Linked DNA regions of Homo sapiens: region 2 is linked to region 1. Evidence: fine-mapped expression QTL. Tissue or cell type: tibial artery. Region 1 holds a variant in brackets; the other region holds the start of a gene. All regions are shown on one strand. Distances are from middle to middle.

Region 1 (2,912 bases):
GACGAACTCAGCTTTAATGCCAATGACATTATTGATATTATCAAAGAAGGTAAGTGTGTGGCTGGTTGGCTGGGACAGCCTCCCAAAGAGCATGCAGTCACATTGCTGTAAGATCTAGTGTGAAAATGAAAAGAATTTATGGGCTCCTCAAACTGCAATTTGTAGAGGCAGGTCAGGCCTCAGGCTCAGTCTGATCAAGACACCAGCTTTTTTAATGCTTCTTTCAGCTCTGCCCCCTTATTTATATTCCCTCCCTTGTCAAGCTGTTTTTCTTCATGGTAGCAAAACGGCAGCAGCAATTCCAGGCCAACATATCAAACCATGTCTGAAATGTGCATCATCTCTGAAACTTCTGTTCTTAGTCATTGGACAAAAGTCCTGACTTTTATTCTGATCAGACCAAATTAGCCATGTGTCCATCCCTGAACCAACTTCAGTAGCAAGACAAAGGCTGTACCCTGAGAGGATGAGACCTGGTAGGGGCTGTCCCCAGAAACGGGGAGGTCTGTCCCACCCACACTTCCTGGCTTCTTCATAATGAAAGTGGATGGAGTGGAAGCCAGGAAGACAACCTTGAATATCCATTATTAAAGCAGTCCATGGGCTTGGCTGAGTGCTTTATTAATTTGGTAGATATCTTACTTTTTTCAACAAACTTTTTGATTTAAAGAACAAAGGGAAAACAACATGGATGGAGCCAAATCACTTGAGCCCATGGGAGCGGAGTGTGTGTGGCTGGGGCAGAACAGACTTTCTCATCTTCACTTCCACCACCTCTCTCTCCCTGCAGATCCTTCTGGCTGGTGGACGGGTCGACTACGAGGCAAGCAGGGCCTGTTCCCCAACAACTATGTGACCAAGATCTGAGGTGCCCGTGACTCTGACACATGGGGCAGAGGAGCTCCAGGCACAGACCAGGGGAGGGGATATTTAGGGGCTCCCCTTACAATCCACAATGAGCAATTGCTTCTCCAAGGCCTGGAGCTATTCTGGTACCTTCCCCATGGAGGACACTGAAAAGGCTGGGTTGGGGACAGGGAGTATCACTCCATAAGTGATCCTAAAAGGTAGCCTCTTCATAGGAACCCAGGAGGACAAAACCACCATGCATTAAGATTTATTTATTGTATTTAAACCTGGTGAGAGGACAAGTGAGGTCTGCTCAGACCTTGTAGGCTTCTATCAAAACAGCACCCTGCTTGCTCACCAGGCCTAGAGAATGGCTGTAGGTGGCCGCTGACAAGTGCCTTTAGTTGAAGAGCACATTTCTTTCATCTCTCTTGTCCATACCTGATAGACACATTCCTCTCTGCCACCTTCCTTCAGGGAGGACCCGCCCTCTGCAGACTGGGCTTAGCGTGAGCAGGCACTTCCCATGTACGTGCCAAGGGTAAGCTGGCCTGCTGAGCCCAGGGCGACAGAGGGGCACTGGTTTACACTTTGCCGGGACCATCAGGGCCGCCAAGCAGGTCAGGGGCTGGGGGCTGGGGGCTGGGCTGCTGGCTTTGCTTTCTCTGGGTCTTCAATTAGAATGTGGCTGGCCCATATTGGTTTGTGTTTAAATGCTGTACTTACTACAAGAAGGATCTTTTTTCAAGCTGTACATTTATAAAAACAGATCATATACTGTATATATAAAAATCTTGAGATGGTAGAAACATGTATGAATGTACTAAGTAGTATTCCACTGTACTCATTCATAAGGTAGGTTTTCTTACAAAACTCACACCAGGTACTTAAAGATGTGCTCTGCTTTTTTCCAACTACGGAGTGTCACTGCTTTCTAG[G/C]TCAGTCCCTGCAGACTCTTCTCAACTCTTTCCCTATAGGAAACTTACTCCGCGTCCTGCCCCCACCTCCTAAATAAATAAAGGAATCGGCGAACACCTTCTTCTTTTATGACATTTGTTATGGGTTGAATTGTGTGCCTCCAAAGAAGATGTTGGAGTCCCAGCCACCAGTACCTCACAATATGACCTTATTTGGAAATAGAGTCTTTATGGAGCAAACAAACAAAACTAATTAAAATGAAGTCATTAGAGTGGGTCTTAATCCAATATAATGGTGTCCTGATGAAAAGGGGAAATTTGGACACAGAGACCAACATGCCAGAGGAAAGACCATGTGAAAAGGCAGGGAGAAGACAGCCATTCACAAGCCCTGGACAGAGGCCTGGAACAGATTCTCCCTCACACCCTCACAAGGAACCAGCCCTGCCCACCTTGGTCTTGGACTTCCAACCTCCAGAACTGTGAGGCAATACATTTCGCTGTTTAAGCCACTCGGTTTGTGGTAGTTTGTTACGGCAGCCCTAACAAACTAAAACAATGTTTTCTTGCCATAATAGTGAAAAGCTGGAATCAGTGTAATGCCCATCAATAATGGAATGGTTGTAAGTAGAGACTGCCATTTCTCTACCTTTCCTCCTCTGGGTGCCATAGCCATTCTTAAGCTACTGGTAACTTAGAGTTTGAGCAGCATACACCTTTGAGGCTTTCAGGATCCTCAAGTCCATGGGAAAAAATTATCAGGGCTTACGTATAAGGGAAAAAAATTGATCTAGATTTGAAACGAAGATACATTTAATTCTGCTGTGTTTTACTTCAAGAACAGGGAGCAAACTCCATTCTGTAACAGTAACGAATAATGTTAAAAGGCTACTTCAGTTCCATGTTGCGACCAGAGAGGAAAGTAGAGCCATGATGCGGTGAGTTGAGGAAAGGTAATCCTGTTGACACTAGTGGTCTCTAAAGTACTTTCACATTCATGGACTCCCCGCAGTGGGAGGAAGATACCACCAGAACTGGGACAGAGGAGCATGCTGGAGTCCCCACAGCCACCAGCACTCAGGCTGCGTTCTCAGGGCAGGAACACCAGGACCATCTTCCCTTGTTATCATAAGCCCCTGGCTGGCT
Region 2 (2,912 bases), 32 kb after region 1:
TGTCCTATCCCTGAGAGTTCAGGGTCCCGACTCTAATAAAACTCCCAACAAGGGGTTTGAGTGGATCTACCAGGCAGAGAGAGGGGCCAGGGAAACTCAAGCCTTCCCTGAACAGAAAGGTTTTGACTATTAAATAACGTTATAGAATACATTATTATAAAAAATTACTTGTCAGTTGGACTTAGATCCACAAAAGGATATTAATTAAATGCTAAATGTATTCAATCTATTAGGATTCTCAAAAGTCACACTTCAATTTCTTCCAGCAGCAACTGCCAATCTGAAAAAGTGTTTGAAAATGTAATGCTTATGGGTAGAAGCCTGGTAATGTGACTCAATTTAAATTCATCTGGATAGGAAAATTGGCAGCTTTTATCTAACCTTATAGCCAAGATGATGGAACTCAGGTGTGTCAGGGCCCTCTAGCTTTCGGCAAAGGAAAAAAGTAGGTCCCGGTACAATTCAAGCCCACAGGAAAAATACCCAAAACACCATAACACTTTGATCTCTGCAAGGATGAAATAAATGAATTTGGACCCTTTTCTCTCAGTCTGCCACATTGGTCCAAATTATATTCAAAAACCTCTGTTACATTTGAGTAAAGAAATTAATTTTTTAAGGGGACAAACCCATTTATTAGTGAACGTAGCATGGAAGACTTAGCGTGCCGAAATAAATGGGAAACTCATACAAAAAGAAATGTGAACAATCTGAAAAACAGCCTGGCAGTTGCCTGATGAAACACGCCGTACACTTTACTGCCTACAGAACCCTTCCAGTCCTCCTCCCAGCCGCCATCACAGGTCCCTTAGTTGGCAAGGAGTTGTAAGAAAGGGGGAGGGAAATCCCAGGAACGTGGAAGTAGATAACTCTCTAGCAATGAAGAGCACTCGGGGATCGCTCGCTGAGTACTAGGCCTAGTGCTCTGGGGGCTCACTTGACAGGCGCCATCTCGGAAGCGCTTTCCTACACTTCTCCCACCCCGGGGCAGGGAGGGGTTAGGGGAGGGCGGAATCCAGACGGGGAAAGGCGGGCCGGAGAGGACCGGCCGCAGGGCCAGGGACGCGGGCGAAGCAGTGAGCTCCGGAGAAGAGAAAAGCAGCCCCGGTTGGGACGGAGAAGCTCGGAGCAGATGAGAGAAGCGACAGGGGAGCTGTGGGGCCGACGGACTCGCCTCTGAGAGCGGTCCCCGGGCACACTCACCGTCGGGCGTCGGAGCAGCGCCATGAGGGACGGGGAAGGCAAGAGTGCCAGCCCGGCCCAGGGAGGGACGCGGACTGAAAAGGGAGGACACTAGCGTACGAGGCGCCGTTAGGACTGCTCTCCGAGCCCGCAGCGCTGGGGATCTTCGACGCTGTAGCCTTGTTCCAGGATTCAAATACCGCGTCGCTTGCGCCCCATTGGGCGGCCCTGCGCACGGGTCGCTGTTCTCATTGGCCAACACAAGATGCACTCTCGCACTCTCATTGGCTGAATTTTCTTAGACACGTTTGATTGTCACAACAGCCGGTTGGGGTGTTTTTTCTGCCTACAGTCTTTTAAAAAAAAAAAAACCCCAGTCTCTGAGACAAACAAAAAGGAACTGTCTCATTGGGAAAGCAGACGTAGGACGCCTCTGAATTTTGACAAGGCCTCATCTACGAATTTCTCTCGACGTTTGTAGTGGGTGGGCGGAAGTTGGTTGGCCTTTATTCCTCTTCTGGTGTGTTGGGGTTTAAGTTGTGTTGGCCTGGGTGCAGGAACCGGCCCCTCCGGGTTGCTCAGGGATGCAGTGTGTTAGGTGGTTGAGATGCAAAAGTGTGCTTAAAAAAAGAGAGAATAATGGCGTTTACTCAAAAACCCAAATTCTCAAGTAAGGCAAAAAAAAAAAAAAAAAGATAAAAGAGATTTGTGTGACTGGTGATTCATGTAAGTTCTCCATTGTATTCCCAACACCTAGTACATCGTTTGTCGTATATGGTTGGTGCTCAATAAATGTTCGTCTAATAATCAGCCCAAGCAAAGAATTCATGTCTAAGACCCCAAAAGCAAATGCAACAAAAACAAAAATACATAAATGGGACCTAATTAAACTAAAAAGCTTCTGCACATCAAAAGAAATAATAGACAACCACAGATTAAGAGAAAATATTTGCAAACTATGCATCGGAAAAAGGCCTAGTGTCCAGAATCTAGAAGGAACTCAAATCAGCAAGAAAGAAAATAATGCCATCAAAAAATGGGCAAAGGACATGAATAGATATTTCTCAAAAGATATTCAAATGGCCAACAAATACATGAAAAAATGCTCAACATCACTGATCATCGAAGAAATGCAAGTTAATACCACAAGGAGATACCACCTTACTCCTGCAAGAATGGCCATCATTAAAAAGTCAGAAAAAAAGGCCGGGCGCAGTGGCTCACACCTGTAATCCCAGCACTTTGGGAGGCCTGTTGGGCAGATCATTTGAGCCCAGGTGTTCAAGACCAGCCTGGGCAACATGGCAAAACCCCGTCTCTACAAAAATACAAATATTAGCCGGGTGTAGTGGTGAGCACCTGTAGTCCCAGGTACTGGGAGGGGGGCGGGGGGCGGGGGGCGGGGGGCCGTGTGTTGGGGCAGGAGGATCCCTTGATCCCATGAGTCTGAGGCTGCAGTGAGCCATGATTGTGCCACAGTACTCCAGCCTGGGCAACACATTGAAACCCTGTCTAAAAAAGAAAAAAAACCTCAAAAAACAATAGTCAAAAAACAGTGTAGGCGTGGATGTGGGGAAAAGGGAATGCTTAAACACTGCTGGTAGGAATGTACAACTTCTATGGAAAAAAGTATGGTGATTCCTTAAAGAACAAAAAGTAGTTCTACCATTTGGTCCAGCAATTCCACTACTGGGTATCTACCCAAAGGAAAAGAAGTCATTATATGAAGA

Which allele goes with the higher level. Alleles are on the strand shown, and positions count from the first base shown. SD is a standard deviation of normalised expression in the study named.
For the expression in tibial artery of the gene that starts at base 1,350 in region 2, allele G in region 1 goes with a higher level than allele C (small effect, 0.34 SD a copy in GTEx).

The links. PIP is the estimated chance that this variant, and not a neighbour inherited with it, causes the effect.
Region 2: it holds the start of CCNB2, and the variant in region 1 is fine-mapped to the expression of CCNB2 in tibial artery (GTEx, PIP above 0.99).

The regions. Positions count from the first base shown.
Region 1 is chr15:59,135,335-59,138,246 of GRCh38, reverse strand. It overlaps MYO1E (myosin IE), which reads left to right. Exons shown (of 28, transcript NM_004998.4): 27 at 1-49; 28 at 791-2,912. The coding sequence ends at 867. Among named protein-coding and RNA genes, the nearest start is that of CCNB2, 32 kb to the right of the region's middle. RefSeq lists an enhancer at 1-37. The variant G/C (reference allele first, on the strand shown) is at 1,788.
Region 2 is chr15:59,103,584-59,106,495 of GRCh38, reverse strand. CCNB2 (cyclin B2) reads right to left here and starts at 1,350. Exons shown (of 9, transcript NM_004701.4): 1 at 1,204-1,350. The coding sequence starts at 1,227. RefSeq lists an enhancer at 1,538-1,827.